4 linked regions of the Homo sapiens genome follow. The protein of the gene in region 1 purifies or fractionates together with the protein of each later gene. This does not show direct contact. Each region holds a gene or a part of one and is shown in the gene's direction. Other genes may lie near its edges.

Evidence for each region.
Region 2: the proteins of CLINT1 (region 1) and SMAP2 purify together in Homo sapiens (affinity purification with mass spectrometry; 2 studies listed by BioGRID and IntAct, with this or other methods). This does not show direct contact.
Region 3: the proteins of CLINT1 (region 1) and PIK3C2A purify together in Homo sapiens (co-immunoprecipitation; 3 studies listed by BioGRID and IntAct, with this or other methods). This does not show direct contact.
Region 4: the proteins of CLINT1 (region 1) and REPS1 purify together in Homo sapiens (affinity purification with mass spectrometry; 2 studies listed by BioGRID and IntAct, with this or other methods). This does not show direct contact.

The regions. Positions count from the first base shown.
Region 1 is NC_000005.10:157,807,119-157,814,151, reverse strand, and holds part of CLINT1 (clathrin interactor 1), read left to right. Parts: intron 1-924; coding exon 925-1,089; intron 1,090-4,346; coding exon 4,347-4,524; intron 4,525-7,033. UniProt on the Homo sapiens protein: Binds to membranes enriched in phosphatidylinositol 4,5-bisphosphate (PtdIns(4,5)P2). May have a role in transport via clathrin-coated vesicles from the trans-Golgi network to endosomes. Stimulates clathrin assembly.
Region 2 is NC_000001.11:40,418,704-40,423,832, forward strand, and holds the end of SMAP2 (stromal membrane-associated protein 2), read left to right. Parts: intron 1-3,272; coding exon 3,273-3,398; 3' UTR 3,399-4,619; downstream 4,620-5,129.
Region 3 is NC_000011.10:17,197,978-17,205,010, reverse strand, and holds part of PIK3C2A (phosphatidylinositol 4-phosphate 3-kinase C2 domain-containing subunit alpha), read left to right. Parts: intron 1-635; exon of another isoform or gene 636-704; intron 705-7,033.
Region 4 is NC_000006.12:138,985,225-138,992,350, reverse strand, and holds the start of REPS1 (ralBP1-associated Eps domain-containing protein 1), read left to right. Parts: upstream 1-4,097; 5' UTR 4,098-4,668; coding exon 4,669-4,821; intron 4,822-7,126. UniProt on the Homo sapiens protein: May coordinate the cellular actions of activated EGF receptors and Ral-GTPases.

The DNA.
Region 1 (7,033 bases):
AACAGTAGTTGGAGTTGTCAGTCACCTGAACCAGCTTAGAAGCTTCTCTGCTCTAATTAGAATGTGACTGTTGCTGGTTGTGTGACGAGTGCAGAATCCAAGACGTGGGGCCCTAGAGTATTAATTAGTGAAGACAAGAACTTGCAGAAAAGACTGGCTAATAACAACAGAACCAACACAACATGAGTGTTCGGGTTTATATTAAAATATGCACTGGAGACTGGTCCCCTGTGGTGTCCATAAAGGAATAGCTTTAATCATATGGGAAGAAAAGGTTAGAGCTCCAAAACACACACATCTGTTTGAAGCTGGGGTTTTTTTCCCTCCCACCAAATAATATTTACTGTGCAAAGGCAGCAAGGCCACAGTGTGTTTTGAATGTGAAAGAGGCTAGAAAATGAAGCACATTTCATTTTGTAGCGTACCCCACTTGTAAGCACTTTAAAAATTCAGTTTTTGAGCTATGCTAAAACCTCATAATTAGTGTTCCAGACGTGTACTGGGGAAACCAAGACATTTGTGTGCTTTTCAGTTATTAACATGCTAAAGTGGTTCTTCTTTTGATTTGTTTTCTTAAAATATGATAGAAAAACACAATAGCACTTATGGATATGTCTATTTTGTGTGGTCATCATCAGTAATCCTTTTTAGGTCAATCTTTAATTGACCTTGCATAGTACCATTATCTGTGGTCCTTTTTAGTTCATCTTTACATGCTCTTATAAGCCAAAATTCCATTTTAGAACTTAGAATTTGCTGAAGAGGAAATGACAAAGTTAAATAGCACAACTTGCCCCTTTCTATTGTTTTTTAAATATTGAAGTTTCTTATGTTGAAGTTTTTGTGTCTTTTTTTTAATCTTAAAGAGCTTGATACATATTAAGTGAATTCTTAGGTTTTGCTTATCTCTTACCATCCTCATAGATGAGCATGGTAAGGATCAAGGTATAAATATTCGACAGAAGGTGAAGGAATTGGTTGAATTTGCCCAGGATGACGACAGGCTTCGTGAAGAGCGAAAGAAAGCAAAGAAGAACAAAGACAAGTATGTTGGGGTTTCCTCAGACAGTGTTGGAGGATTCAGATACAGTGAGTATCAAAGACAAGCTGACACCTAAGCATCAGCTTAGCTTCTTGAGTATATTTTAAGAATCAGTGAAATACCAAAGACCAAAATGCTAATTTTCTTTTCTAGGAATACATAGAATACTAAAATACACGCAGTACTAATCTTGACTTCTACTATCACATGAATCTTCCTATTTTTAACTTGTGGGTTCGGCAATAGGATTTTAACCATTAATGGCTAATTAAATGACTGCATATTTTGAGGTGTCATACAGAGATTAAAACAGATATATGCCCTTCCCTCTTAGGATTGCCATTTTAAAAAGAAGGGGGAAGAAAGTTTCTATAACTCAGAGTTTAGAGTATAAAAATAAAAAGTTTGATCAGGAGATCCATCTTTCTAATTTGAAACCAATTTAGCTGTATTTTTGGCCCAAACCAGATAAGCTTCCTGACAGTCATTCCAGCCTCAGTCTCTCTTTCTTTATTTAAGCATTGCATACTTTGACATATAAAAGATGACTGACGATACTCGCAGTTTTTCATCTAGGCCTATTGTTTTGTTTATTCTTCCCAGTACACTTAAGAGCAGCTAGAACATTCATCTTTCATGTTTATTTTTAATATAATAATATAGTTTCTCTAAAATAGGGCATAGGTGCTTGAAGCAGATACACAAAATAGGAACTGTCTTTCACGGCATGTCCCTTTGGACTTGTTCTGTCTTCTGTGAGCTCTGACAATCTCTTGCTCATTTTGTGTATGTGCAGACTGGCCAGTGCTGTGTATCTTAGCAGCTGTTCACTGAGGCTCTCCAGCTCCCCCCACCCATATATGTTTATATTTGGATTATATTGAGCTCTCATATCTCCTTCAATGGAACCATGTAAAAATCTTAACATATAAAATATCCTTACTCATTTATTCCTCTGCTTTCCCACTCTCAAAGAAAAAACACTGCGTTTAGTTAGCTGTTTAAGGATGTTTCTAACAGCAGAAAAATTCCCTTTTTTATATTGAAGCATCAAATACAAGTTAGTTTTTTCTTTTTCTTTTTTTTAAATAGGGCTAACTCATAGGCAGTGCAACCAGAGTCGGCCACAAGTTAGTTTTTGAATTGGGCAAAAATATTTCTCCTAAAGCATATAAATAATGTTTTGAAGTTTCTATTTGGGGAAGTCCAAAGTTTTTGGATTATTTACCCAAGTAGTAACTTTATTCTTCAGGTTTTTCAAAGTAGTTGTAGCAACTTAATGTGTTTTTAATAGAAATTGCTATTTGAAACTTATTTCCACACTATTCTTGCTTGTATCTTTCTTTTTGCCAGCATGATATATAATTATATCAGCTAAACTTAGAAAATTGAATACGTTTTCAAACTCAGTCACAATGCACTAACTGCAGCATCTGTATTAAAGATAGAGTTGGATATCCTGTGTGTTTGCATCACATCCTTTTGCTAAGTTATTGTTCATGGTTTATGTTATTCAGACTTAACTAATCACTCTTAGCAGTTTTGTGTTTTTTCTTTTTCTTTTCTTTTTTTTTTTTTTTGAGGATTCTTGCTCTGTCATCCAGGCTGGAGTGCAGTGTTACCATCTCAGCTCACTGCAACCTCCGCCTCCCGGGTTCAAGTGATTCTCCTGCCTCATCCTCCCAAGAAGCTGGGACCACAGGCGTGAGCCACCATGCCTCGCCAATTTTTGTATTTTTAGGGTTTCGCCATGTTGGCCAGGCTGGTCTTGAACTCCTGACCTCAAGTGATCCAGCCACCTTGGCCTCCCAAAGTGCTGGGATTACAGGCATGAGCCACCGCACCCGGCCAGTTTTGTGTTTTTTCATTCTGACATTAGATAATGTCTTGCCAATATCCAGTATCTTTAGCAGTAATTCAGTATGATGTTCACCATGCCATGCTAATCAGTTTGGTTTTCATCCACTTCCATTTTTCGTGTAAATTTGTTTCTTTCCGAAGTCTGGTTCATCACACTGTTGTTGAAATGTACATACACATTGTTGGAAAATCACTTTTTTTAAAAAAACCATCCTGGTTTAAATTTTGTCTAGAAAACTTCATTTTGTCATGTTTTCTTTAAGTTGATGGTCATTTCCAGATTCAGTAAATATGTTAAAATCCTTAAACATGTAACAGAAAATTTTAGCCTTGCAATTTTAGGAGGCAATTCAGCAAAATCGTTTTGTTCAATCTCCAAAGGCTATGTATCCTTTTAGATCCTGTAAACAAAAGTTCAAAACAAAAGCTCCATTAGCCACTTTTTAGTTATTTTGTTGTTTCTCATTGTCCTTTTCATTTTCTTCCAACCTGCCTTAATTTTTAATGTTTTCTTTTTTAAAAATACCTCACGTGCTCTCTGTACCTTCTACTGTTGCTTCTTAAGTTGGATTTGGACATGGAAATGGAAGGGTTTCATTTTGTGTCTGTAATTCCTATGTCTCCTTTGGGTCCCTAGGGGCAAGGACTAAAACAAATCTTGACATTTTGGGTTTTTTGTTTACTGCCACGATCTATTCTCTGCATTCCCAAATTCACACAGAGGCTCTAGGTTTCGCCAGTCTCAGCATATGTTTGGAATGGGTGTTTGAATTGGTTGACACTGTTCTGAACTACTGTTTGAGCATACTTCCTGATTCTAGTATGTGTAGTTTTTGGTAGTTAGAGTAATCCTTTCTTTGTACAGTAATTACGGAATGCTTTCCCATCCCCTGAAAATTCATTGAATTATTTTTTTAGTTTGATACTGAGGCGTGACAGTTATTGAGACTTTTTAGCTTATTGGGACATGTAGCATTCAGATTGGAGTTCCTTCAGTTGTATTTTTTAAGATACTGTTGCTATCCAATGCTTTTCTGAAAATTGGGAAACCATTAAGGGACAGGAATAAAATATAACATATTAAGTGTCTTTTGTGAAAACAGAAAGATTTTCATTTCTCTTTTGCTTATATAGCTTGTGTTGGTTTTGTGTTTTCCACTACTCCTTTCAGTAGCCTTTAAGAATTTCCTGATATGCTGTGCTGTGCATTAAGGTTGTGTAAGTATTCATAAACAAAAGCTTTTGAATCTGCATTCCTGCCACTTAATGACTGGCATTACATGCTATGCCTTGCTGTAATTGTGTTGATTCAGCACTGTGGGAGCTTTCTGTTTTCCTTTGAAAATGATTTTATTATGAGGAAAAGCCTGAGAAATAAGGACTTGTAGATACCTTTTGAATTTAATGTCGTTAGAATTGCTTCTTTTTTTAATGCTCTATCTAGGTGAAAGATATGATCCTGAGCCCAAATCAAAATGGGATGAGGAGTGGGATAAAAACAAGAGTGCTTTTCCATTCAGTGATAAATTAGGTGAGCTGAGTGATAAAATTGGAAGCACAATTGATGACACCATCAGCAAGTTCCGGAGGAAAGATAGAGAAGACTCTCCAGAAAGATGCAGGTATTTTACCACTTTGTCTCCCGGGTCTCTTAGAAAGAGCCCTAAATTTATGCCACTGGGTTTTTGGTTTTTTGTTGGTTTTGTTTGGGGTATTAACATTATCTGAAATTGGGCCTTTTTTTTTTTTTTTAATAGACTTCATTTGTTTTTAGAGCAATTTAAGCTCACAGAAAAATTGTGCATAAAGTACAGAGTTGTCATATACCCACTTCCCCTTCATAACAGGTTCTGTGAACATCTTGCATTACTATGGTGCATTTGTTAACAATTGAAAAGCCAGTATGGATACACTTATTAACTAAAGTCTGTAGTTTACGTTGGGGTTTCCTATATTGTACACTTCTATGGGTTTCGACAAATGCATAATATTCCTCATTACTGTATTGTATAGAATAGTTTCACTGCCATAAATATGCCCTGTGCAGAAATGTGGAACAAGTCTTAAATGTGCAAGTTATCCTTGCACAGGGGGCATGCTAATCTTCCCTGTATTGTTCTGGTTTTAGTACATATGCTGCTGAAGCAAGCACTGTGCAACTATTTTTAAGATACTAGGTTATACACTACTTGCAATTAGTATTGACATACTTTCCATGTTGCCTCTGTCTACTTATTTTTGAAGTTGATCCTGTGTATTTTTATTCAAGCTAGTAGTCTTTCCTTGGATTTTTTTCCCCAGTAAAAACTTGTATAGATTATTTTGCATTTGGACCTTAGATGATCCAGGGACCTAAGATACTGAGGGATAATGAAGTTTATATATTAAGTTTAATTAAACATAAGTCAAAGGATTTGAAATTTAATGCTTCCTTGACATTTCATTATGATTCTGTGCCAGTGTGTACCAGAAAAACAATCCAAATGGATTTTGAACCAGTTTTTGAGAATAGAGCTGTATTTTTATAAACTACATTTTCTGATGGTATTTAGTTTTACATGGAACAATACTTTGAGCTTTGCAGCAGTCACTTTTGTTCTTACTTACCAATATTATTATAAACCAATTTTTCTGAGAATGTAAAGGGTAATGCATATAGCACTTAATTTACAGAGCAAATTTTACTTTTTAAATTTGACCTTTATCATTTGTGCCTCACAATATCTCTACTAGAGTAGAATAAGAATTTTGTCTTTGTTGTTTATAAGTAAAACCTAAAACCCAGTCACACTGTGTGGACTTGCCTAAATAACACAGTTAGTGATGGAACCAAGCCTTCAAGTGAGTTCTCGTAACTAAATGCCATCTCTTTTTCTTTACCCTGCGCCAAAAATCCTAATAGTTCAGAATTAGGGATCATTAAAAAGAGGTCCAAACAAAAATACAATCTAATTAGTGTATTTTTAGGATGTTTTCATATCTTTTAAATCCCTGGAATGCCTGTTCAGGAAATACCAACAGAATAATGGCCATAATTTCAATAATGTTTTCCAAACCAAGCCAAAACTTACACAGGCCACAAAAACATTAATGAGGGAAACAGCTCTGTATATTTGAAGTGGGCACCATTTCCCTCCCAATGTTTAGTATTTATAATTATCATATGCATCCTTTTTCAGTATAAAAAAGCTAGATATATACTTGTAAAATAGATTTATTCAAAGTGCTAAAAATAAGTTCTAGCTCTTCAAAGATCACATTCCAGTTTTTCAAACAGTCTTGAAAAAGAGACATTTCAGGGCAGGCTCAGTTCCACCACTAACTGTGTTACTTTAGGCAGATCCACACAGTCTGGTTGGGTCTTAGGTTTTACTTATAAACAATAACGCTATGTAGGCTGGTTAGATATCTGTGTGTGTTCTGTATTGTTACTTTCTCTCCTTTGCCCTTCTATCCTTAGTTTTTCTTTTCTTTGTCTCTCTACTCTTCTTTTATTTCTGTTTCTCCCATGATTTTTATTTTTTATGTTGCCTCTAAGACAGGATCTCCTAGAGTTTCTAAATCTTTAAGGAGTATTTAGGTTTAAAAGAGTGAAAATGCAGTGAACATGATTTATCGTGATAATGATAGGGCACACCAGGAACTTTTTATCTTAAAGTATTTGTGAGAGAAGAGTAGATTTTTTGACAGAGTTGCATATGACCTCAATCCTGATGGCATGTTACCTGAATTTCATACTTATTAGTTCACTATTACATTCAGGAATTCTTGAACATTGATCAGATATGGAGCTTCCATTTCATCGTGTGCTAGTCAGATTTATATTTTCAACTTGTGAATAAATTATTTTGCGCTGAAATAAAATTGGACACCAAAAAAGTAAGAAATTTCAGTTTTACTTGTAGGACTAATGGGAATCTTCAGGTCATTTGTTGTTGAGAAGTTAGTAAGGGCTTTTGAATGCGTATCAGAACTTGTAGGTTCCTTAAAATGTTTATATATAAAAATATATTTAACCCCTTTGCTCTGTGTGGGAAGTCATTCTTTTTGATCTTTGATTTATACAAGTTCCAGATTGGTTTATATTTAAGTACAAGTTGCTATAGTTCAGTCTGAGGTAAATTGCATCAG
Region 2 (5,129 bases), on another chromosome or scaffold:
CATCAGACTTCCTAGCAGCAAAATACAAAAAGAATAACAAGGAGAGTAGTATTTTAAAGACACTCAAGTGTATGCAAGACACAACAAGTATTTTACAACCAAGCCAGCCAAGCTATCCTTCAGGTATCAAGGCTGTAAAAAATAAATATGCAAGAACTCAGAGAATATCACACTTACAAGACTTTCCTGGGGAATCTAACAGAAGATAAGCTTCATCCACCTAAGAGATGACTGGGGTCATTTTCATTTTTGGCAAAAGAACTGATGGTGAGAATTGAATGTTTAATTGAGAATCTAAGACTAAAACAAAGGTGGTGACAAGCGTTGCAGAATATACATTATATTCTGACAAACAAATACAACTGAAAATGAAGGAGGAGGGAGAAAAGTTGAATAATAAATATTGTATGGGAAAGAAGTAGAAATCGAAGGATGCAATAAGCTGACAAACCAAATCACGGAAGCTTGAATAAGGAAAAAGGAGACCAAGGACATTGCTAAAAAGTATTACTATGAAGGTAATCACTAGAACAAACACGTGAAATGTTCTGAATACCAAGATAATTTTCTTCCTTTCTTTTTTTTTTTTTTTTTTGAGACAAAGTCTCACTCTGTCACCCAGGCTGGAATGCAGTGGCACAATCTCGGCTCACTGCAACCTCCGCCTCCTGGGTTCAAGTGATTCTTCTGCGTCAGCCTCCCGAGTAGCTGGGATTACAGGCACCCGCCACCACACCCGGTTAATTTTTTTTGTATTTTTTAGTAGAGACGGGGTTTCACCATGTTGGCCAGGCTAGTCTCAAACTCCTGACCTCAGGTGATCCACCCACCTTGGCCTCCCAAAGTGCTGGGATTACAGGCATGAGCCACTGCGCCCAGCTGAGAATTTTTAAAAACAGACTACAAAGTGCAGCAAATACAATAAACACAGTAAAAATCTAATATGATGGAGTTGAGACCAAACATACCAGTCATACCAGTAGGCAACTCTTCTATCAAAAGAAAATGATGTTCAAATTGGCTAACAAAGCAACACTAGTTTTGCACTAGGTACAAAGAAATACAAAGTGATTTAATGTGAAAACCAAGAGACAGGCAAAGGAACCCCAGAGAGGTGGTATGGTGCATGTGTACTGCACATGTGCATGTATAGCTATCTTTATCAGGGTTATACTTATTTATAAGAAGTACTTTTATGTTTTTGTTTCTCTGTGGTCCAGAATAATTTATGTAGCTCTGGTCTTTGAAGGTTTTGTGGAATTCCCATGTGAAGTTTGTGGGCACTATTGCTTTTTTTGTAGCAAATCTTTGATACTTTTCTCTGTTTCTTCTATGGAAGTCAATTTTGGAAAACTGTATTTACCTAGATTTTCCATTTCGCCAAGGTTTTCAAATTTATCAAAAGTTATGCCTAGCAGTCTCATTAATTTTTTTCAAAGAACCAGGATTTCGATTTATTGGTGCTACATTTTTCCGTTTTCTACCTCAATTTCCGTAGGCTTTCTATGGGTTTACTTTGTTATTTTCTAGCTTTCATAGTGGAGATTTTAATTCACTTATTTTCATTGTTTCGTTTTTATTTATATAAGTAATGGAATGCTATAAGTCTGATGGGAATATGTCAGAGGGACGCATGAGCCAACTTCCAGTGGCTCTGACTGGCCAAATGTGAGACAATTTGAACATCAAAAAGAGTAACAACAGTAATGGATTATGACACACTGAATGGAAAAAACAAAACAAAACCATGAGTCCACGGTGATATTTTTTAAAAACCAGGTGTGGAATGGAGGGAGGAAAAGCCTTCTTTACAGAAGAATGACAGTAGTTGTAAAAAGAGCAAAGGATTGACACATTTGCAAAGAAATGCCCTTCAGATTATTTATTAATTATAATGAAAGAAATATAGTCACTACCTCAGCCAAGTGATCAAACATAAAATTACTGACAGAGGAACAAAGTAATGTCATATGCTTCCTGATATTTTGTACTAAGAAAGACATGTGTCACCTCCATAGAATCTTGCCAAAAATATTGAACCTCGATCCAATTATGAGAAAACATGAGATGAATCCAAATTGAGGGGTATGCTACAAAATAACTGTCCTGGGTTCTTAAAAATGTCAGTGTCAGGAAGAAATGGAAGGAAGTGTTAGGGAAACTGGTCTAGCTTAAAGGAGACTACAGAGATCTGAAAATGAAATGCCATGTACATTAGAATATGGTGTTAATGTTAAAATTCTTGAGCGTGTTCATTGTTTTGTGGTTCTGTTAAAGTGTTCATTCTTATGAGGTGCCTCCTGACTTAGGAATGAAATGTCGTGATAGCTGCAGCTTTTTTTTTTTTTTAATCTGCAACTTTTGATACTCATCAAAAAAATGTAAGTTTTTTTATAGGGAGGGAGAGAAAATATGGCAAATGTTAACAGTTGGTGAATTTAAGGAAGAAGATACATGGGTTTTATTGTACTATTGTTTCAACTTTTATGTCAGTTTGAAATTTACTTTAAAAGTTGGTACAAGAAAATAATAGTTTCTCCTAAAGAAAAATAACTTATATAGAAAATTTACTAGGCTTAGGAAATTCAAGGCATTTTTCTCCATAAAGTATTTTTCTGTTCACTGCTAGGGGCCAGTCTTTCCATCAGATTCATGAAGGACCCCCGCCCCATCCTGCCCCAGGCCTTATTCCACTGACTGTTTTCTCCCAGCTCCTTCCCTTCTTATACACTGAAGACACATTAGTCTTCCCCCGCCCCCGCCCCGCCACCGCCTTTGTTCATTCTGAACAGTCCAGTTCCTTTTTTTCCCCCTTGTGCAAACGAGCAAGCCTGCTCAAGCGCTTTCCCTGACACTGACAGTAATAGCTGTGCTGAAGATGAGGCGGGAGCACTGGGGAGGGGGCTTTCCTTTCAGCTTTTAGGATTGGCCAGGCAAGTTAACAATAGGCCCCTTCTATTTAGGATGAGGGACTGGAAAGGAAAAAGAGAGGAACTCATGCTGATTTTCTGTCGACTAGATCCAGATGCCAGGATGCCTTCTTTCCCTCCCTGAGCTTTAGTCTCCGTCAGCATTGCACTCCCAAAAGGTCATTCACGTACGTGGCCTTGAAATGATCTGACTGCTAAGGTCCAGGGTTTACTGTCCATAACAGAGTTTCCCTTTGTCTCATTCTCCCCATCCTGGCAGAGAAAGGGACTCTCACCCTGCCTTTTGCACTAATTGGCGGAATGCCCACAGCCTGGTCTGAAAGTCTCCTCTCTCCCTTTCAGATGACCCAGCAGATGGCTGGGATGAACTTCTATGGAGCCAATGGCATGATGAACTATGGACAGTCAATGAGTGGCGGAAATGGACAGGCAGCAAATCAGACTCTCAGTCCTCAGATGTGGAAATAAAAACAAAACACCTGTATGGCTGCCATTCTCTTCAGCCCTCGCTCTCCCCTTTCCACAGCCTCCACCCCTGACCCCCATCCTCTTTTCCTACCTCTCTGTTTGGTTTAGAAATTGCTCAATAAGTCATTTGGGGTTTGGCATCCTGCCCAGCCACTTCCCAAACATGAAGACCTCTCTGTTGCTTTATGTTGTACATGCCCCATAGCCATCCCAACGTCCTCCCCAGTCCTCTCCTGGCACCAGCACCTTAGAAGTTGTTGGCAGAAGGCACTTAAACTGTGGGAGAAGTGTGCACACCTTTGAGTCCCTTCCCTCAAGGTTAAAGCTCCTGTCAGACTCTCAGAAGGGTCTGTGGGTGTTGTATATTAGGCAAACAGGGGAAAGCTTAGAGGTCCTTCTATATGTGTTAATAAGCTGTTTCTAAGTGTTTAAATTTGAAAAGCATCATGTTCTCATGATTTATGGGAATGAAGCAAGTACTGAAATCAAATTAAATACTCCCTGGGTCCTGGGTCAGTTTGACCCTAGCCCTGGGGTGAGGCAAGCCCCCTCCTATGAGGATGAGCAAAAATACTACTCTCTTCGCCCTGAGTTGCTTTCTGGATCTGGGGCTTCAGGACTTGCTGCTTCAGTCAGCCTTTATTAGCACCAAAGACTTTATGAAGATCCCACACACAGACACACATCCCTTCCCGCCTCCCCCCTGCCTTCAGTAGGATCTGGCTCCGTGGCTGGAGGACCAACCCCTATAGTGGGAATGCAGAGCTTAACGTGTACTGCTTGTGTGTGTGCGTGAGTGTGTGTGTGTGTATGAGTGTGTGTTCCGCCTCCCACCCTCTCCCCATCTGCTCTGGGTATTTTTGTTTTTGTTTAGTTTTAGGTTTACAACAGAGAGGAATTAATTTATCAGCAGCCTAAAACTGTTGTGTTTTTCTTATGGTTTAAAAAACGCCATGTCATTGATAACTCCCTTTCTCCCTTCCCTTCTCCCGGTCTGCTGATCACTCTTTCATGCCTGTGTATCCAGGGTGCTCTGTTTCCCCACCGTTCCCAGGTGTACGAGGCAGAGGGCCGGGACAGCTTTCCTCTCAGTCATTGTTCACCCCACTTGAAAATTCAGACAAGAAAACTTTGCTTAAAAGATTTCATGTGTGGGAACCACAGTTCCTGGCTGCCTTTCTCCTGTGTATGTGTAAATTCCTTAATAAATATTGCAGGGAAGGACTGTTTGCTTGGCCATTACTGTGCGTCACTCTTGGAGGAGGGTGCGTTACACTTAGGTTTTCTGTTTTCCAAAGGCAATTGTTTCACTTCCTGTATTTTAGAAAATTCTGTACTTCTCATACCCAAGGGTGAGGCCCAGGCTCCAGCAGTCAGAAAGGGGGCCTCTCTCCACTGGCATCTAGAGCTGTGAGCTGAGAGAACTCCAGAGATCAGCACCTTCTAGAGTCACAGAGCATCAGAGCGGCATGCTTTCCCCCCACAGGTGGAGAAACTGAGACACGGAGAAAGGACATGGTTGGCAAATGTCCACTAGAGAACCCTGGGCAGAACCGGCAGTAGCCTCCAAGTGTCTGGATTTCCAGCCCCTTGTTCTTTCCCTATACCATGGCAATTAAGTAGTGAGTTGAAATTCCTCTCTGCCAAGAGAGCAGTAGCTTTGGCTGGTAAAGGTAACTCACCCCTCTCTGAGCTATCAGAACTGGACCTTCCGTATCAGTGTCAGGAATT
Region 3 (7,033 bases), on another chromosome or scaffold:
AGACGGGGTTTCACCATGTTGGTCAAGCTGGTCTTGAACTCCTGACCTCAAGTGATCCGCCCGCCTCGCCCTCCCAAAGTACTGGGATTACAGGTGTGAGCCACTGCGCCTGGCCTATGCATTGTATTAATTTAGCATATTCCAAAAATAATTTAAGACAGGCAAATGATAAATGTGGATGTTTCTGGTGGTGCATCACATTGTAGGTGATTTCATTTTAGTAGTTGTACCTGCATAGGGCTAAAAATTAACCCTCTCAAAGCTCTGAGAGTGCCGGAGGGCCTGAAAGAGTGCCTGGTACTTCAAAGGTTCCCAGGGATAAGAAAAATGAATGAGACAGTGCTTGCTCTCAAGAATTTCTCATCCATTTGGAAGACAACGTACATTTTATAACAGTATAATTATAAGGGCAGGCTAAATAGGATATGGTCACCTGGGCTGGGAGATGGAAAAGGAATGAGGGGGTTTGAGGAGGAAGAGGATGCTCAAGTTGAGTCTTAAATGATTAATTCCTTCTATTCATAAGGGCAGGATGGATAAACGTGATCAGGTTCTAGGCCCTGCTCTGCTTCTATCAAGCGGTGAGATATTGAGCAAACTGCTTAATACTTCTGGTATCCATTTTCCTTATTCAGGATTCGACTACATATATAAAGCAGTGCTGTACATGAGAAATATGTGAGCCAAAAATGGGAGTCACATAGGTAGGAGATTTTACATTATTTTTTTCCCCTAAATCTTTTAAATCTGGTGTATGTTACACTTGGTACATCTCAATTTGGAACAGCCACATTTCAGGCACTTAATAGCTCCATGTAACTAGTAACTGCCATATTGGACAGTATAGATCTAGAGGCTGGGTGCATTAATGCATGCCCATAGTCCAGTGCTTTGGAGGATCGAGGCAGGAGGATCTCTCTTTTTTTTTTTTTTCTTTGAGACGGAGTCTCGCTCTGTCGCCAAGGCTGGAGTGCAGTGGCGTGATCTCCGCTCACTGCAAGCTCCGCCTCCCAGGTTCACACCAGTCTCCTGCCTCAGCCTCCCGAGTAGCTGGGACTACAGGCGCCCGCCACCACGCCCAGCTAATTTTTTATATTATTTTAGTAGAGACAGGGTTTCACGGTGTTAGCCAGGATGGTCTCAATCTCCTGACCTTGTGATCTGCCCGCCTCGGCCTCCCAAAGTGCTGGGATTACAGGCGTGAGCCACTGTACCCTGCCAGCAGGAGGATCTCTTGAGCCTAGGAGTTTGAGGCTGCAGTGAGCTATGATCACCACTGCACTCCAGCTTGGGTAACAGAGTGAGACACTGTCTCAAAAAACAACCACCACCACAAAAAAGATCTAGAGGCTATTCTGTCTTGGTTCTCTGCTTGAAAAAGGAAAAGGGACTCCAATGAGAAAATTATCACTGGTAATTTATAATTTGTAATCATTTTGATGGTACTCATATATGATGTTCTTTTGATGAGAATTATGGTCATACTTGCAAATATTGCTGTAAGTATCTTTCAGGTTGTTCATAGGATTATGGTTGGGATGAGAAGAAATGTCTTTGTTTTCTCTGCATCTGTAGTGGAGTCATATTTTTGTTATCTTTATTTTGTTCATTTATGTATACTTTGTATCCTTTTTTTCTACAGTATGTTATTTCTTTTTTTCTTTCTTCTTTTTTTTTTCTAATAGAGATGGTGTCTCACTATGTTGACCAGGCTGGTCTTGAACTCCTGGCCTCAAGCGATCCTCCCATCTTGGCCTCCCAAACTGCTGGGATTACAGGCATGAGCCACTGCACTCGGCCTGCAGTCTGTTTTTCTAATGTAATGGATTTAAAACACAATGAGAGTGCATATGGACATTTTAGAAAGTTAAAAGGAGAATTTATACAATTTTAAACTAATTCTTGGATTTCTTAAAATTTTAAACTTAGCTATTTGGGTACAAAAACAAATGGGATTTATAAATCCTCTTTTAATAGATTTGAAGGCAGTTATTGTTGGCTTAGCAACAAGTATTTATCTTTTAACCTTGAGACTGCATTAAGATAGTGTATAATTAACATGCTTACTGTTAAACATAAGGCTTTCTGTTAGTATTACAGTATAACAGTTACATTATTGATATGACTGATGTGCAATGTTGGTGCACTTAATTTGCTGTGCACTGAGCTTGGTTAAAAAACACTAGTGGCTAATTTTAGACAAGATAGCTATGACTGACAATAATACATCTTTACACTTGGATTGACTGATGGTTATAGCTTAGCTAACACTGTTTTCCCTCCAAGACCTTATTACCTGTGAGGTAAATACAGCAAGTATTCTGATTTTGCTGAGGCCCAAAGATGTTGTGACTTACTTAGCATAATAAATTAGAAGCATTGCTTGAATTCAGGTCTTAACAATGCTAGGCCCAGTGTTCTGTTCTTTTTTTTTTTTGAGGGAGGTTCTCTCTGTGTCGCTCAGGCTGGAGTGCAGTGGCTCCATCTCAGCCTACTGCAACCTCTGCCTCCCACACTTGGGTGATTCTCCCACCTTAGCCACCCAAGTAGCTGGGACTACAAGCACGTGCCATCACGCCTGGCTAATTTTTGTGTTTTTTGTAGAGGAGGGGTTTTGCCACATTGTCCAGGCTGGTCTTGAACCCCTGGGCCCACCTTGGCCTCCTAAAGCGCTGAGATTACAGGCATAAGCCACCACGTCCACCCCAGTATTCTTTTCTTTTCTTCCTTCTTTCTTTTTTTTTTTTTTTTCTGGAGATGAAGTCTCACTCTTGTCGCCCAGGCTGGAGTACAATGGCGCAATCTCAGCTCACTGCAACCTCCGCCTCCTGGGTTCAAGTGATTCTCTTGCCTCAGCCTCCCGAGTAGCTGGGATTACAGGTGCATGCCACCATGCCCGGATAATTTTTGTATTTTTGGTAGAGATGGGGTTTCACCATTTTGGCCAGGCTGGTCTTGAACTCCTGACCTAAGGCGATCTGCCCGCCTCTGCCTCCCAAAGTGCTGGGATTACAGGTGTGGGCCACCGCCCCGGGCCCCAGTATTCTTTTCATTGAATCTCTTCATATGGCATTTGAGTGTTTAGATACATAGTACAAACCAGATTTTTGGAGTGTATAAAGAAATAGTTACTTCCTGCCTTTGGGAAGTTTATATTCCAACTAGGAGAGACCAACTAACTACAATCCATGTAGCAAAAAGTACTTCAGTTATTTAAAAAAATTTGTTACGGGAAAGAAAAGATGTAAGGGATAATATAGTCAAATGGAAAATAGATAAGAGTTAATTAGACAAGATTTTTGAGTAAAGAGTTTAGATTGTAAATCCTTACTATAGGAAGAAGAAGATGATGAGGTGTTAAGGATAGTGTTATTTCAATGCACAGAGAACAACTTAAGGGAAAACTTAGCTAAGGGAACATAAAACGTAGGTTTAGGGAAAGCTTTTCTTTTTTTTTTTCTTTTTTCTTTTTTTTTTTTTTTTTTGAGACGGAGTCACGTTCTTTCACCAGGCTGTAGTGCAGTGGTGCGATCTTGGCTCACTGCAACCTCTGCCTCCCAGGCTCAAGTGATTCTCCTGCCTCAGCTTCTCAAGTAGCTGGGATTACAGGCACACGTCACCACGCCCGGCTAATTTTTGTATTTTTAGTAGAGATGGGGTTTCACCATGTTGGCCAGGATGGTCTCAATCTTTTGACCTCATGATCTGCCTGCCTCGGCCTCCTGAAGTGCTGGGATGACAGGCATGAGCCACCACACCAGGCCTAGGGAGGGGTTTTCAAGGCTTATTTTTTATTTTTATTTTTTAGATAGAATATCGCTCTGTAACCCAGGCTGGAGTGCAGTGGCACGATCTTGGCTCACTGCAACCTCCGCCTCACAGGTTCAAGCGATTTTCCTGTCTCAGCTTCCTGAGTAGCTGGGATTACAGGCGTCTGCCACCACATCTGGCTAATTTTTGGGTTTTTAGTAGAGACGGGATTTCACCATGTTGGCCAGGCTGGTCTTGAACTCCTGACCTGAAGTGATCCGCCCACATCTGCCTCCTAAAGTGCTGGGATTACAGGCATGAGCCACCGTGCCCGGCTTGAATCGCCTAGTTTCATCTGACTAGATCTCATAATGACATTTATCAGGCTAGAATTCTGTGTGTATTGAAATGTATGACATGATACTACCATTGTTAAGGATTCTTTTTGAAAAGTCATACTTATTAAGGTATAATTTACACTTAGTAAAATTCATCTGTTTTAGGTGTAAAGTTCTGTATAGTTCTGCTAAAACAGATGAATTACAAAAAACAGTGACAGTTGTGTAACTGCCACCACCACAATTAAGATACAAGATATAGAATATTTCCATCACTCCAAAAATTTCCATAATTATGCCCTTTTGAAGTAAATCCCTTCAGCCCACCCCTCACTCCCTGGCAACAGCTCATTTGTTTTTTATCCCTATAGTTTGGCCTTTCCCAAAATGCCATATAAATTGGCATCACACAGTGTATATAGCCTTTTGAGACTGGCTTCTTTCATTTAGCATAACACTTTTGAGATTCAATAACATGTCTCTTTTTTATTAATAAACTTTTTTAGAAAGTTTATAGAAAAATCATGAAGTTACCAATTTACAGAAAATTTGTAATTGTAGTACAGAGAAATCCCTTAAACCCTGCACCTAGTTTCCCCTATGTTTAAATTTATGTAAACTACTAATTTTTGCTAATGGTCAAACCTGCAAGGTTCTAGAATTAAGTTTGTTGAAAATGGGAAACAATATGAAGATTTCGATCAAGACGATGACTTTCTAATGCCTTTTTTTTTTTTGAAATGCAGTCTCGCTCTGTCGCCCAGGCTGGAGTGCAGTGGCGCGATCTCAGCTCACTGCAACTTCCTCCTCCTGGGTTCAAGCGATTCTCGTGCCTCATCCTCCTGAGTAGCTGGGATTACAGGCACGCACCACTATGCCCAGCTAATTTTTGTATTTTTGTATTTTTTGTATTTTTTACCATCCCAAACAAACTCTGTAGCTGTTAAGCAGTGACTGTTCATTCTCTTCTCAACCCAGCCCCTGGTAACCACTAATCTACTTTTTTTTTTTTTTTTTTTGAGATGGAGGCTGGAATGTAGTGGCACGATCTCAGCTCACTGCAACCTCTGCCTCCCAGGTTCAAGCAATTCTGCCTCAGCCTCCCGAGTAGCTGGGACTACAGGCATGTACCACCACGCCCAGCTAATTTTTGTATTTTTAATAGAGACAGGGTTTCACCATGTTGGCCAGGATGGTCTTGATCCACCTGCCTTGGCCTCCCAAAGTGTTGGGATTACAGGCGTGAGCCCCTGTGCCCAGCCTCTACTTTTTGTCTCTGTGAATTTACCTATTCTAGATCTTTCGTGTGATTGGAATCGTGTAATATTTAGCCTTTTGTGTCTGACTTATGTCACTTAGCGTAATGTTTTCAAGGTTCATACATGTTGTAGAATGTATCATTTTTATGGCTGAATCATATTTAATGTACCACATTTTGTATATTAATTCATTGATGGATACTGCATTTGTTTTCACCTTTTGGCTATTATAAACAATGCTGCTATGAGTATTAGTGTACTCCTATTTTCAGTTCTTTTGGGTATATATCTAGGAGTGGAATTGCTGGGTTGTTGTAATTCCATATTTAATTTTTTGAAGAAACACTAAAGTGTTTTCCAAAGTGGCTGTACCATTTTACATTCCCTTAGCAGCAAAGTATCAGGGTTCCACTTTTTCTACACCCTTGCCACCACTTGTTGTTTTCCTTTTTTCCAGTTATAGCCATTCTAGTAGGTTGACTAGTGATATTGAGTATCTTTTCATGTCCTTATTGATAATAAGTTGGCTTTTTTTTTTTTTTCTTGAGACGGTGTCTCACTCTGTTGCCCAGGCTGGAGTGCAATGGCATGATCTCAGCTCACTGCAACCTCTGCCTCCCAGGTTCAAGTGATTCTCTTGTCTCATCCTCCCAAGTAGCTGGGATTACAGGTGCCTGTCAGCACGCGTGGCTAATTTTTGTATTTTTGGTAGAGACAGTGTTTCACCACGTTGGCCAGGCTGGTCTCGAATTGCTGACCTCAAGTGATCCACCCACCTCGGCCTCCCAAAGTGCTGGGATTATAGATGTAAGCCACTGCGCCCAGACTAAGGTGGCTTTTTTTTTTTGTTTTGTTTTGTTTTTTATGAGGTCTTGCTGTGTTGTCCAGGCTGGGATACAATGGCTATTCGCAGAGACAATCGTAATGCAGTATAGCCTTGACCTGATAGGCTCAAAGGATCCTTCTGCCTCAGCCTCCAGAGTAGGTGGGAGTACAGATGCATGCCACTGTGCACAGTTAATGGTAGCAACATACTGATGCTTGTTTCAACAATGGTCAAGGCAGGGTGATGTTAACATTTTTTAAAAGGAAAAATAATTGGATGGAAACGTATTTTAAAATCGCTATTATATGCTAAGCATTTTATTATATAATTTTATTTAACTCTGAAAACACAGTATTATCTGTGTTTTACAGATGAGAAAACTAAAGACAAAGGGAGATCAAGTAACTTACTTTAAAAATCACACAGTTGGCCTGGCAGTGTGGCTGATGCCTGTAATCCCAGCACTTTGGGAGGCTGAGGTGGGTGGATCACCTGAGGTCAGGAGTTCGAGACCAGCCTGGCCAACATGGTGAAACCCTGTCTCTACTAAAAATACAAAAATCAGCCGGGTGTGGTGGCGGGCACCTGTAATCCTGGCTACTTGGGAGGCTGAGTTAGGAGAATCGGCTTGAACCTGGGAGGTGGAGGTTGCAATGAGCGGAGACTGTGCCACTGTACTCCAGCCTGGGAGACAGAGCAAGACTCCATCTCAAAAAAAAAAAAAATCACACAGTTTATAAGAGGGAAGTCTGATATTTGCTTGCTGCTACATGGTTCTTTCTCCTGCTATCACTGTTATATAAAACTATGAATTTAATCCACATGTTGATGTCATGTGAAAGTAAGACTTTTTTAGTCAT
Region 4 (7,126 bases), on another chromosome or scaffold:
GAAGTCTGCATGCTCTCCCTATGTCTGTGTGGGTTTTCTCTGAATCCTCAGGTGTCCCTCCACATCCCAAAGATGTGCACATTAGATAAGTCAGGGTGTCTAAATGGTCCCAGTCTGAGTGAGTGTGGATGTGTGTGTGTGTGTGTGTGTGTGTGTGTGTGTGTGTGTGTGTATACCCTGTGATGCAATCACATCCTAGACAGGGGCTGGGTTCTACCTGTCCCATGAGCCACTGGGATAGGCTCTTGCTACCCACAACCCCGAAATGGAATAAGTAGGTAGGAAAATGAATGAATATAAGTGACTGAAAAATAAAAATGTGTAAAGCATATGATGATCATACAGATGCAAAACAGTAAACAAGGTGGTGCCAGAGAGCTCAGCAAGCCACCATGTTTGTGATGATTTTGAACTTCACTTTGCAGACATTTATTCCTTGATTTAACCCACCACCAGGACAACCGTGGTAACTCACCAATATACCAAAAATAGGGTAAGTAGTTATTTTTTTTTTAGTTAATCATTTTAGTTGCATGTGTAGCTTACCTTTACTTAAATGTTTAATATTAGAAGTGTTTTGGTCTCGATTTAGAAATTTGGTGATTCTGTGACCAGAAATATGTCACAGCAACTTAACTCTTGTTTGTAGCAAATTATCAATTAGCCTATGATAAAATTGGTTTCGTGATACCGTAACCAAGTGCAGCCTTGGCTGTTTGCCCTTTGCAAACCCAATAACAAGGGGTGAAAGGAAAGTGACTTTATTTTTCAAAGCTAGCAGTGGGGAAACAGCCAGCTTACACCTCTGGAAACTGCTTCAAAAGTCTGGGCTGAAGGCAGAGGTTTCAAAAAGGGAACCTTGATATGGGAAACATGCAAGAGTTGTGCCGGGAGCCCGGGCTGTGTGTCTTGCTTCAACGCCTATCTTGAGTTATGGTCCATCTAAAATGCAGGCTGGCGTCATCTCGCCTGTGGCCAGGCTGCAGATTATCTATCTTGAGGCAATCTTTAAGTGGGGGACAATTCTGCAGCTGGGCCTTTGTGCCTAGTTCATTTTAAATTAGCCCCTGGAATTTTTAAGAAGCATACAGTTAGATAAATGTGCATTGGGTAAGGGAGTACATTGTGGGAAATAGAAGGGAGTGGAGTTTCAAAGTATGTTTCAAGGCTATATTTTAAGACTAAAGAGAAAAGGTTTCTACAGTTTGTTTCAAGGTTACAGCTTGAGACTGGCAAGAAAGGAGAAAAGAAAAAAGTTTTCTTTTGAAGCTAAACTACTTGGTTAGAATACCTTGTTTTGCTTAAAATTAGTTTCCACGGACCTATCCACAATAACATTAATTGAGGACTTACTGTATTGAATGGCTTATCACATCAATGTCAAAATTGATGCTTTCATTCATTCAACAAATTATTATTGATACACATTATGTGTCACATACTGGGCTTTGGCACTGTGGCAATGAAGAAATATTTTCCTTCTTTTCTTGCTTGCTTGCTTTCTTTCTCTCTCTCTTTCTTCTTCTTCTTCTTTTTTTTTTTTTTTTTGATACAGAGTCTCGTCCTGTCTCCCAGGTTGGAGTGCAGTGGCACAATCACTGCTCGCTGCAGCCTCTATCTCCTGGGCTCCAGTGATCCTCCCACCTCAGCCTCCCGAGTAGTTGGGACCACAGGTGCACACCATCATGCCTGGCTATTTTTGTATTTTTGGTGGAGATGGTGTTTCACCGTGTTACCCAGCCTGGTCTTGAACTCCTTAGCTCAAGCAATCCACCCACCTCAGCCTCCCAAAGTGCTGGGATTACAGGCATAAGCCACCATGCCTGGTGAAGAAATATTTTCTTAATAACAAACTTAACAAAGAAATTAGACAGGCAAGATAGGGTAGTGATTTTTAGAGTTGAGACAGCCTGGAGTTTGAATCCCAGATCCGGGTATTTAATAGCAACATGACTTACACAATACTTAACCCATTTTGCCTCAGTTTCCTAATCTGTCAAAAAAAAAAAAAAACCTAGTAGTACCACTTAATAGGGTTGTTGTGAATAATGTGGTTATTAGTGTAAAGCTTTAGAACAATGCCTGAAACTTAGTAATTATTCAATAATTAGCCGTTAAAAATGTAACAGCTATATATGTAATGTCAGATAGTGAAAAGTGTTATAAAGAAAAAGAATTCAGGTTGGGTGCAGTGGCTCATGCCTGTAATCCCAGCGCTTTGGGAGGCTGAGGTGGGTGAGCCCAAGAGTTTGAGACCAGCCTGGGTAACATGGCAAAACTCTGTCTCTACAAAAGCCACATACACAAAATTTAGGTGGGCATGGTGGCCTGGGCCTGTGGTCCCAGCTACCTGGGAGGCTGAGGTGGGAGAATCACCTGAGCCTGGGAGGTCGAAGCTACAGTGAGCCAAGATTATGCCACTGCACTCCAGCCTGGGTGACAGTGGGAGACTCTGTCTCAAAAGAGAAAAAAAAGGAATTCAGATAAGGGGATAGTGCATGGTGGGATTATTTTACAGCAGCTGTTGCAGGAAGGCTGCTCTGAGGAGGTGACATATGAGCAGGGACCTGAAACCATATGAGAGAATACGCCATGCCATGGTTTGTGGAAGGACTATTTTAGATGGCAGGAACAAAGGCCCTGGGGCCGACAAGAGCTGCAAGGCCTAGGAGAGGTGGCAGAGAAAAAGATGCAAAGACAATTGTGAGCCAATCCCTACCCCATTGTGCTCTTTCTGTTTACACCTTTGGAAGGCAGCTGTCTGGGGGGGGTCTGATCACTTGCTGCAGGTGCCCTGAAAGGACACATGAGGGGCTGCTGTAGCAAACTGAAAGTCTTAGAGATGGGAAATAAGCTTAATGGATAGTATATACTTACCTTTATCAAATACTACTAGTCAAGTCAGAAGACATTGACAGGTCTAAAATCCCTTATCTTTCTTAAAAAATAGAAAGATAATAGAATGCCTGTGACTGTGTACATATTAACATTCTACAAAGACCTGGAGTGAAATGAGTAAATATTGACACTAAGTGGGATCCATAAAGGCTAGAAATAGCTTCATGCAAGCTTAGTTTAGATTTTGCCTCCAAATGAGGCAGGGCAGGTTTTACTTCCAAAGGGTTACAAAAAAAAGTCTTTGGGTTTTCAGTGCGCTTTGAATTTTGCAATTACAGATAAATGACTGGGAACCTGTAATAATTTCCTCATATGTGTCATTTATAGGATCCGCACTCTGGGAAACAACTTGTAGAAGACAAAATAAAAACCAGAACTCTGGGTAATTCTGCCTTAGCTCCCGTCTTTGAAGTATTTTATATTTGCTAAGTATAAATTCTTAAGATATTCTACTTGAAATAGCTGAAGAATCCCCTCTCTGGGACAGGTGCAGATTAAAAGAGCGCCACTCCATGATTTTCATAAAGGAGAAAATACGGAAGGCAGCCCCTGTGGGCAGCCCCGGGCCTACATGAGTTGATAGAGTTGAAGGTATAAATGTAGAGTATTAAGTTCCCAGTGACCGGAATGACCTGGTGAACAAAGAGGACAACTTTGCCAGTTTTCCCCTCTATTCAGCACATTTTGTTTCTCAGGTAAACATGGCTTGAAGCACGAGTGAGATGAAGCCTCAATGTTGGTGTCTACGTGGAGGCTTCCCGGATAGCCAGGATGTTCATAGCCCGGATGTTCATAGCCCTTCAGAACAGATGGAAATACTGCATTTATCTTCATCTGTACCGAAAAGGTACAGATAGAATGATAATAACCTGAACAAGGCTCCCCTTTCAATCCAATTATTCAGACGCTTAGGACCAGAAACTGCGAAACATAAAAACTGCAACCCGGATCTTAGTTATCTCGGTCTTAATGAGCTGCCGGCTGTTTCCCACTGCACCCCCCTTTCCGGGGGTCTTGCTGCTGAGATCTCCGCGCAGAGGGCGGCTCGGTCATCCCGCCGCCGGGCGCCGGCCACCAGGGGGCGCTGCGGCCTCCTCCCTCTCCCGGGAGCGGCCAAGCCAGCCCGGTGGGTGTTTCTCTCTCCCTCTCGCGCTCTCTCCTCCCGGCCTCACATCCGGGTCTGGAGCGCGGCCGCCGCTGTCACTGTTGGTGCGGGCGCGTCGGGGCCGGGCCGGGGCACTGTAAATGGCGGCGGAGGGAGGCGGAGCGGCGGCCACGCTCAGCCCAGATCCCCCGAAACTTTAGGTTCGAAGCCCCACAACTTTCCGGGAAGCGCTGCCGCTCCGGAGGCGTGGACGGAAGGGGAAGCCGAGGCGGGAAGTCTGGGGGAATCGGCAGGGAGCCGGGGAGACTCGAACCCGCGGCGGGGGCGGAGTCCGCCAGTGCCTCGCGCCTCCGCGGCCCCCGCCTCTTTCTCTGCACCCTCCCCGCGGCCGGAGCCGGAGCCGGAGCCGGAGCCGTAGTCGCAGCCGCAGCCGCAGCCGCGCGCCGGGCCTCGCAGGCAGCGGCGCGGCGAGCGCAGCCGGGCCCCCTCCTCGCGACCTCCGGGCCCTGTTGCTCGGGCGCACCTGGCGCGTGTGAGGCCGGGGCCGGCGTTTTCGGGAAGCTAGCAGGAGGCCGGGCCACGCGCAGCCCCTGCCGGCCCAGGTTCCTGGGGCCGGGCCCCGAGTAGTGCATGCGGGGCGGGGCGGCCGTGAGCCGGAGGCGAAGATGGAAGGCTTAACGCTGAGCGATGCGGAGCAGAAATACTATTCAGATCTCTTCTCCTACTGCGACATTGAGAGCACCAAGAAGGTGGTGGTCAACGGGCGGGTGCTGGAGCTGTTCCGGGCCGCGCAGCTGCCGAACGACGTGGTCCTACAGGTAACGTCGCGTCCCGGGGCCGGCGGGCGGCTTAGGCCTGCAGTCACTGGCCTCCAGGAGTGGGAGTGGGCGCCGATTCCTTGGGGCCCGGCGGGGGGCTGGTTCCTCGGGGGGTCCCCGCAGCGGGCAGGGGCCGCAGGTGCCCGGGAGGCCTGGACTCGCGCCGCGGCCAAGGGGGAGGGGGTTGCCCTTAGAGGACGGAACTCCTGTGGTGGGGGTCTGAAGAGCCTCAGCCGGTATCCCCCACGACCCTGAGAATCTGTGCTCTGTACTGCAAGAGCTATCTCACTTGAAGGATCTTAGGTTGTTAATGTGTGTGAATCCTAGAACCTGGCATATAGAGAGCTTTTCGGATCCTGCAGAGTAGTAAAGTTATCAGTATGGGCAAAATGGTTTTTTTAATTCTTGGATTAACCGAGAAGACGTGATAAAGTGAGTTCTATAGATTTAGGAATCGAAGAAGCAGTTTTTTTAAAGGAAGCAAAATTCTTAGGGAAATTTTTTAAAATGTGAACTACTTAGTAGTTTTACAAGTAGGCATACAAGAAGTTGTAATTATCTGTAGAACGTGTGTATGTGATGAGACTGAACAATGTTTTTCAACAGGCATTCGAAAGCATTTGTGGAACTTGTGGATTTGGGTTGGGAGATGAGTATTGAACAGCTGGTAGGCAGAAGTGCGTTATTTGCCCTAATCTGAAGCCCTGGAGGAGCAAACCCTGTAGGTTTAAAGCCTTTTTTTATCATATCTGCTTTTGAAACAGAGGACTTCCTAGAAGTTCTTATCTAATGTATGTGGTGAGCATTAATGCTACTCTGTTTAATGATTCATAGCTGCTAGTAGGAGTCTGTCTAAACAGTATGTTAGGAACAGGTTTTAAGCTTTCATCTTTTATATTGATCCAAGCTAGTTATCCACATCTCCAAAATTTAAAGCCACATGTATAGGTGTATGTAGTGGACTGCAAAGCATTGGACCAGGGTTTTGAAGGCTGGGTCCTTGACCCTACTCTGCTGTTAACCAGCAGTGTGACTTTGGGTCAGGCACTTTCCATTTTCAAGCATAAGTATGTTCATCCACAGAATGAAGGCAAGTTTCTTCCAACAAAAATTCTGTGAAGAATAAAAATGTCCACACACAGGTCTCTGTTTTAGAAGTTAAGTCTGCATTAACTATGACTAAGTTGAACGAGTTCGATCTTTTTAAATGGTCTTGTGTTTTACATTGCTTTTTTAAAGGTGGGATGTCTTACGTGCCAGTGAAGGGCAACGAGGAGTCCCAAATTCATCCTGTTGAAAAGGGACAAATAGTAAATATTTTGGGCTTTGCTGGCCACATATGCTCTCTGTTGCATATTCTTCTTCTTGTGTTTACAAAACACAAAAATGTAAAGCCATTCTTAGCTCAGGGAGATACAAAACAAAGCCTGTGGTCTGCTAACGAAGGGTGCTGGTAGTGTGGTCTATGGTACTCTCCTGTTACAGCTTTGGAGTAGGACTTAGAGATCTGGTCAGAACATGCTCATTAATCATACTCTTTTTGCTCCTTTTGAAGAAATAACAAAGTATACCTTCAAGTTAGGATCTAAATAAAATTAAGGAAAAGCCTTCTCTGTTCTATTTTAGTTTGTCTTTGAGGTGAGAAAGAGTTGAAATAAAACTTTCAATCTTTTTAATGGGTACACAAAGACTTTAGAACTTGAAATGTAATTTTTAGGACAGACACATTAGCATTAATGAATCTTTACTTCAAACATGTTTAATTCAGTGCAAGTTATTTTTATGTTTTGCTCAATTTTATTAACATTCAAAAAATAAATTTCCATTGTCTTTTGGCATAAAGAGAGAGCTTAAATATTCAGGGTTCAGTTACAAGTTGGAACTCCCTGGAGCAGAACTCTTACAGTTATGTATACTAAATAGCAGTCTAGATATCTTGAAGGCAATTTACTTAAAAATTGGTCTAAGACATAGAAATATGAGACAAAAGGAGAATATGTGCTTAATTCCCTTAAGGGAGTTTGGGATTGTCTGAAAACACAGTCCTCCATTGCTTTCTAAGTGGGAAACATTTGGGGCAGCTCATATCTAATGCTTAGTTCTCTACTTAACACTGGGCTAGGCATTGCAGGCATCAGAAGAGGAGTAAGAAGCTCTTGAGGATCTTGTCAATTATAGGAGTGCTCATGTATAACATAAGGTATAATGTATGCCATAGGAGAGGTGCCAAGTGTTATGAAATGCTAAGGAGGTATGACCAAGAAAGGCTTTTTGACTTAATTCAGATGGACTTTAAATTAGGGTG